Linked DNA regions of Homo sapiens. The protein of the gene in region 2 interacts with the protein of the main gene of each other region in a pairwise test. Each region holds a gene or a part of one and is shown on either strand. Other genes may lie near its edges. The genes, in order: GLRX3 and BOLA3.

What was found.
Region 1: the proteins of BOLA3 (region 2) and GLRX3 interact in binary tests that used the Homo sapiens proteins (3 or more experiments, as listed by UniProt).

What each region holds. Positions count from the first base shown.
Region 1 is NC_000010.11:130,142,870-130,146,685, reverse strand, and holds part of GLRX3 (glutaredoxin-3), read right to left. Parts: intron 1,476-3,816; coding exon 1,367-1,475; intron 1-1,366. UniProt on the Homo sapiens protein: Together with BOLA2, acts as a cytosolic iron-sulfur (Fe-S) cluster assembly factor that facilitates [2Fe-2S] cluster insertion into a subset of cytosolic proteins.
Region 2 is NC_000002.12:74,137,717-74,141,532, forward strand, and holds part of BOLA3 (bolA-like protein 3), read right to left. Parts: intron 1-3,816. UniProt on the Homo sapiens protein: Acts as a mitochondrial iron-sulfur (Fe-S) cluster assembly factor that facilitates (Fe-S) cluster insertion into a subset of mitochondrial proteins. Probably acts together with NFU1.

The DNA.
Region 1 (3,816 bases), on a different chromosome or scaffold from region 2:
TTTTTAAATCTTAAGGATTCAGGCTTGGGAATACAAGGTGCACCTCCCCTCCTGATAATTCATTTCTAAGACTCTCAACACATATTTTGGCCCTGCTGCCTAAACCAGTACTAAGTCCTGAATAATATCTTTAACGTGCTAAACCAATTGAGTTAATCCACAGTCAAAACTACAGCTTTCCTAGCACTCATCCACTCAAGAGAGACAGCAGGAATGTAGGAGTACACATAACCAGAGTGAAAAACAAAAGAGGCAAGGAAGAGACTGACTGGCTTCCATCTTCCTCTACATTCTGAACAGGTTAGAAAGACTTTCACCTTCTCCCGGAGGTCTGCCTTCATCTAAACCAAGATAGCAACTTCCTGTTCCCTGGTCCCTAGCAGCATTTACATACCCCTTCCTGAATTATTTTCTACAGCACACCTAGCTTTTCAATGACATAATTTGTGTTACTATTTTAAATGCCTTAAAACCACAGTTACCCACAGGGAACTAATTTGTCTGCCTGTGCTCTCCAAAACTCCAGCCCACAGCCACCTTGACATTTGGTAGTCATGCCTCACACCCGAGGATGATCAAGGAAAAGTGTACATTTGGCCAGGCGTGGTGGCTCACGCCTAATCACAGTACTTTGGGAGGCCAAGGTGAGCAGATCACGAGGTCAAGAGACCAAGACTATCCTGGCTAAGATGGTGAAACCCCATCTCTACTAAAAATACAAAAAATTAGCTGGGTGTGGTGGCATGTGCCTGTAGTCCCAGCTACTCGGGAGGCTTAGGCAGGAAAATCGCTTAAACCGGGGAGGCAGAGGTTGCAGTGAGCTGGAGCTGCACTCCAGCCTGGGCGACAGAACAAGACTCTGTCTCAAAAAAAAAAAAAATGCAAAATTATTTTAAGATTTTTAAGAATGATGTGCAAAAATAACAGATCCCACACCAATTATACATATTTGGAATTCCATACCACTCCATCTTTATATTAGTTAATAAAATCTAATTTTTTATTTTATTTATTTATTTATTTAGAGACAGCGTCTCGCTCTGTCACCCAGGCTGGAGTGCAGTGGCACAATCTCGGCTCACTGCAATCTCTGCCTCCCGGGTTCAAAAGATTCTCCTGCCTCAGCCTCCCACATAGCTGGGATTATAGGCACCCGCCACCACGCCCAGCTAATTTTTGTATTTTAGTAGAGACAGGGTTTCACTATGTTGGCTGGGCTGGTCTCAAACTACTGAACTCAGGTGATCTGCCCGCCTCAGCCTCCCAAAGTGCTGGGATTACAGGTGTGAGCTACCGCACCCAGCCCTAATCTAACCCATAAATCAGAATTAAATTCACAAAAGACATGACATTGAAATATAAATACCTTCACAAATGAAACTTGAGGGAGTTCTTTAGCTAACTCTGCCATAACTTCGTTCATCTGTGCACACTGTGGAGCCCATGGTGCCCAGAAATGGACCACAAGGAGGGACCTGTAAATCAATTAAATGCATTTATTTAAAATTATACCAATTTTGGAAATACACAAATACTGATATAAATTACCAAAAAGAAAAAAAAGAAAGCTTTAAAAGAACCGTCTGAAGTTTTTCATATTGCTAGAATTTTGTTGTATACAACACTGGAACATAAAAGCACTCTGCAAGGTCTTGAGACTCTTTCAGATAAATTTTCAATTCAATGATATTTCAAGTGAAGCCCATTTGAAGTAGATCTGAATATTCATCCACCTCAATTAAAAGTCATGTAAATCACTGTTGGTGGGAGTGTAAATTAGTTCAACCATTGTGGAAGACAGTGTGGCAATTCCTCAAGGATCTAGAACCAGAAATACCATTTGACCCAGCAATCCCATTACTGGGTATATACCCAAAAGATTATAAATCATTCTACTATAAAGACACATGCACACATTATGTTATTGCAGCACTATTTACAATATCAAAGACTTGGAACCAACCCAAATGCCTGTCAATGACAGACTGGATAAAGGAAATGTGGCACATATATACCATGGAATACTATGCAGTCATAAAAAGGAATGAGTTCATGTCCTTTGCAGGGACATGGATGAAGCTGGAAGCCACCATTCTCAGTAAACTAACACAGGAACAGAAAAACAAACATTGCATGTTCTCATTCATAAGTGGGAGGTGAACAATGAAACCACACGGACACAGGGAGGGGAACATCACATACCAGGGCCTGTCAGGGGGTGGGGGGCAAGGGGAGAGAAAGCATTAGGACAAATACCTAATGCATGCAGGGCTTAAAACCTAGATGATGGGTTGATAGGTGCAGCAAACCACCATGGCACATGCATACCTATGTAAGAAACCTGCACATTCTGCATATGTATCCCAGAACTTAAAGTAAACGAAAAAAAAAAAAAAAAAGCCAGGCAAATCAACCATATTTTCAGACCCCTGGGCAAAGTGGAAACTGAATTTCTGTATTAATGGCACAATGTTTGTGAAAAATGGTTGTAGACACATTACTAATAATATCATTATTTACTTTTTAAATGTGGTATAGTGATGGAGAGACATAACCGTGACCATAGAAACAGCAGTAAGTGTTGAAAATGAAGGCATGCCAGTGCAAAACGAGGAAAAGAATAGAACTGCTTTTCACAAAGACTTTTTTTTATACTTTTTAATATTATGCTACAAAAGATTTTTCTAGACCCAGAGCAGTGGCTCACACCTGTAATCCCAGCACTTTGGGAGGCCGAGGCAGGCAGATCACTTGAGGTCGGCAGTTCGAGACCAGCCTGGCTAATGTGGTGAAACCCCAACTCTACTAAAAGCACAAAAAATTAGCCGGGTGTGTTGGTGCATGCCTGTAATCCCAGCTACTCAGGAGGCTGAGGCAGAAGAATTGTTTGAACCCAGAAGGCAGAGGTTACAGTGAGCTGAGATCACACCACTGCACTGCAGCCTGGATGGCAGAGCAAGACTCTGCCTCAAAAAAAAAAAAAAGATTTTTCTAGGCCAGGCAAGGTGGCTCATGCCTGTACTCAGCATTCTGGCAGACTAAGGTGGAAGGATTACTTGAGCCCAGGGGGTCGAGGCTGTAGTGAGCCATGATCATACCACTACACTCCAGTGTGGGCAACAGAGCAAGACCCATTTAAAAAAAAAAAATTCTAAACATTTATAGTATGAACACACAGAATATATTAATAACTCAGTATCTATTTTAGTTAGTTTTCACACAAAATTATCTTGGCAAAGATATCTATGGTCATATCCAACTAAAAAATCCTTCAGTTTTATGGAATTCTGTTCAAATATAATACCACCTCCCAAAAAAATCTGAAAAATCACGAACAGAAATATGTTCCATGGCAAAAAGAACCAAGGACAACTAACCTATGGGTAAGGAAAGGAATAACAAACTGTAAAAACTGATCAAATAATACCAGCGAGAAGAGAATAAGCCTACAATAAAGTGTCAGGAAAGCAGAAGCAAAGAGCAGCATGAGGATTTCGAAGGTAGAAGGGGCAGGATTTGGTGACAGATAAGGCAGTCTACAGCTGGCTCCAAGTTCTGGCTTAGAGACTGATGGCTAGTGGTGGCACTATGCCTCAAATCATAGTGCAGAAGCTGCCAACCTGAGGAAAGGAAGTTTAATGGGTTGTTAGTATGATGTCTAGAGCTCAGGGAAGAAGTCTGCACCTGATATACAGATTTGGGAATCAAGAAAGGAACAGTGCCAGCACCACACCGCAAAGGGTTACAGAGGGACACAGAGGAGACCCGAGGTCAGCGCCTCAGGGGGCTTATCAACATTAAGTTAGGACAGATGGA
Region 2 (3,816 bases):
ATCCGGGAGCTCCTGTTGTGTTGGGGGACAATGAGCTGCCCCACTTGGCCTACACTGCACACCCTCCAGCTCCACAATCAAGTGCAGGGCCCTCAACTCTGCGGACAGGCAGAAATGTCCCTGGAAAAAGCCTCATATAATCACTGGGCGAAGGTCCCTGGGCCACTTGCTCTCTGCAGGCGTGGAATGCTCCCTAGAGACTGTGTCTGTGCCTGGACCACAACCAGCCTCTCCTCCTTACATCCACCTTGGCTGGGTGAGGGCCCAGTCACACCTTCATGTGACTGACCCTGGACAGAGGAACCTTCTGGGCTTCACCCACTCAGGCCCTGCGCACTCCCCCTCCCTGATGCCTTCTCCCTGCTCTCTGTGCAGCCCCTGAGGGCTTCCCAAAACACACTACAGTCCCTTACAGCCACACAGGGTCTTAGAGATCACCTGAGTCACTCTACAGTTAAGGAAACTGGGGCCCTGCTGGGGGAAGTGACTTGGCCGAAGTCCCATGGGTAATAAGATGCAGCTTGGATAACCATTCTTAAGCACCTGCTATGCCCACAGCACTATAGTAGGTGCTGGGGACACAGAGGAAAAGGCGTGGGAAAGTAATGAAAGAGAAAGTAGCATTAAGTCCAACACAAATGGGCTGAATGTGGGCAGCAGAGGACTGCCAGACTCAAGCCAGCACAGCCCTGCTTCCGGTGTTCGAGGTGAGCTACTGCACTGGTGACTGGGGTGGACGCACAAGGGCCACACACAGGAGGCAGCCCTGGAGCTGGAGCCAGAGGTGGAGCAGGCAAGAGTGAGAGGGCATCTGCCCCAGGACAGCAAAGTGAGGAGAGGCTGGGAAGCTCCCGTGATTCACTGAGGTAGGCACATGTCAGGGAGACTGAGGCAGATCACATGAAGAATGGGCAATCCCAGGCTAGGAAGACTGGACTGGATTCTGGGCAACCAGGGGAGCCACGTAAAGGCTCTGAGCAGGGGAAAGACATTGGTGGAGGCGCCTTAGGGGAGGGCAATCCCCTAAGCTGGAAAGAGGCCGGAGGCAGGGAGACGGCAACAGCTGTTTAGCAACTGCCTTCCACGTGGCAGGCACGACGCTGGGCACCTGTGGTCAATGCCTCATGCAATATTTGCCAATATGAGGCTCAAATCTCACCTCTGTCCACCTCAAAAGGCAACTCAGTGATCACCGTGGCTACCTACCTACTCTACCCTTGCTGACACCTCCCCAGGATGGCAGGAGGACAGGTAGGGAGGTGCTCCTGGTACAAAACCCTCAACATCTAGGCCTCCTAGGGCGTGGCCCACAGCAAATGCCCAGTAAGTATTTCCCAAGAGAAGGCTGACGCACTGGGCCCTGGGAGAGGCTGAGCCCCGCGCAGCAGGGTCCCAGAGGAACGAGTCCATTCCTGAGGGTGCCGACAGGGGGCGCCCCCTCCAGGGAATCCCGCAGGGACAGTCTGATGGGAAGCTCAGGAGGGATGCCAGTATCGGATGGGTTGGGCGACCTTTTCAGGCCTTTTGGGCAGAAAATTCTGACTCTACAGCACCAGGATGAACACTACTACGCATAGGGTGAGTAGGCAAAATAGATGAGGCAAGCTTCACCCCGTCAGGACACCAGGCCCCCACCCAAACAGCCTGGGCATGAGAGCATCTGGATGGGGCACCTACCCCACCCCCACCTCACTCCTGAAGAGACCAGCTGGCCCTGGGAGTGGAGTCCAGTTACCACCTTGCCTTCCCCTTGATTCCAGGTCTCTGCCTCCTCCTAGGGCAGTGCCTGTCAGAACCCCATTCCCAACAGCTGTCCTGAGCAGGGCAGCTCCAGGTCCCGGCTCAGACCCTGCCGGCCAACAGACTTGTTCCTGAAGATTTTCATTTTCATTCTTCTCATGCGACTGTCAAAGCCAACATCTCCAGACTTAAATCATCTAAAATTGCCTATGACCAAGTCCATATATTTTAACACAAGTGTCAGCCCCCTAAGAATGTACTGTGGCCAGGCTCAGGGGACCCCCTCATGTCAGCTGCCTGCAGACATCCAGTGTGGAGCTGCATGACCCCCCCAAGTCCTGAGCCAGAAGGGCTGTTCTGGCTGGGGGCAGAGGAGAGGCCTCTAGAATAACTCAGGATGCAGCTGCTCTGGGCACAGTGGCTCACGCCTGTAATCCCAACACTTAGGGAGGCCGAGGCAGGAGGATCGTCAAGGAGTTCAAGACCAGCCTGGGCAGCATAGTGGAACCCCATCTCTATATAAATATAAAAATGTATATTTTTAAGGTTGGGCATGGTGGCTCATGCCTGTAATCCCAGCACTTTGGGAGGCCGAGGCAGGTGGATCACCTGAAGTCAGGAGTTCGAGACCAGCCTGGCCAACATGGTGAAACCCCATCTCTACTAAAAATACTAAAATTAGCCAGGTGTGGTGGCGGGCGCCTGTAGTCCCAGCTACTTGGGAGGCTGAGGCAGAAGAATTGCTTGAACCCAGGAGGCAGAGGTTGCAGTGAGCCGAGATAGCGCCACTGCACTCCAGCCTGGGTGACAGAGTGATACTCTGTGGGAGGGAAAAAAAAGAAGTATATATTTTTAAAAAGTGCCCCAATGTCAGGATGTGAGTTCTCCAAAACAGAATGCCTTTCAGATACTAAAACATAATTTCCATGGGTAAGCCAATAAGAAAACACAAGCCAACTCTCCTCACTCTCTGCAAACTCTCAAGAAATACTGACTGGGCTCCTTCCATGTGCCAGGTCCTTTGTTAGGTGTGGGGGACACAGCCCCGTCCTGCAGTAAGCCTGCTTTCGAGGGGGAATGAAAGACAAGTGACTGGGCTGTCTACTCAGGAAGTGTGAGGAGAGGCACATGTTGCTATAGGGGGCCAGAAGACACCTTAATCCCAAGACCGTGAGGTGACACTCCCCCAAACTGTGGGAATCACAGCCCTTCCCCACCCCAGACTGGTGCAGGTTCCTTCCAGTGTTGGAGATGACAATGATGGTGATGGCGGTCACATTTATGGAAGGCTTACTATGTGTCGGGCAGTGTTGTCAGTGGTCAACGTGTACTTTATCACGAATCCTCACAGCAACACTTTGAAGCAAGTACTGTTACTCTCAATTAGGAAACTGAGGCAAAGGGTGAGGTTGAAAAACTTGCTCAAGGTCACATGGCTAGAAAGTAGCAAAGCCCAGATTTGAAAGTGGGAAGTCCAATTCCAGAAACTGCTTCCTTAACCACTTGTAACTGTGGTTTCAGGCCAAGGGACACACTCAAATTACCAGCACCTATGGGTCCAGTCACACCAGGTGGCTTGTACAGATCTGAGAATAAAACCCAAAGTGCCACGGGTTGGGGATCATCTGGCCAGCCAGGTCTTCCCTGTCTTGTCTTCTGCCTTGATTCTGACCCCAGAGATCACATGGGACTGCAAGAGTTTCCGGGAGGGCTCAGTGATGGAGCACCCAGCAGACCACCAGCATGCCTTAGGGCTGTAGGGGTCACATCCACTGCAAAGGGCTACGTTCCATGAGAAACACAAAGATGGATCCCAAAGGGCACTGGTCCACAAAGGGCTGACAGGTTGCAGGGTCAGACAGCAGAGATGTCCGTTTTCAGGACACAAGACGGAAAACACCGACAGCCAAAAAAGGGGGCCGGGGAGGGTGGGGGAACGGCATTCATTCCCTGCTGGGGAGGGAGGGGAGGCAGCATTTGAGCTGAGTGGAGGACGGGAGGAAGGGCAACCCAGGCAGAAGGTCCAATCTGGGCAAAGGCCCAGATAGAGAAAGAGAGAGACCAGCGGGCAGAGGC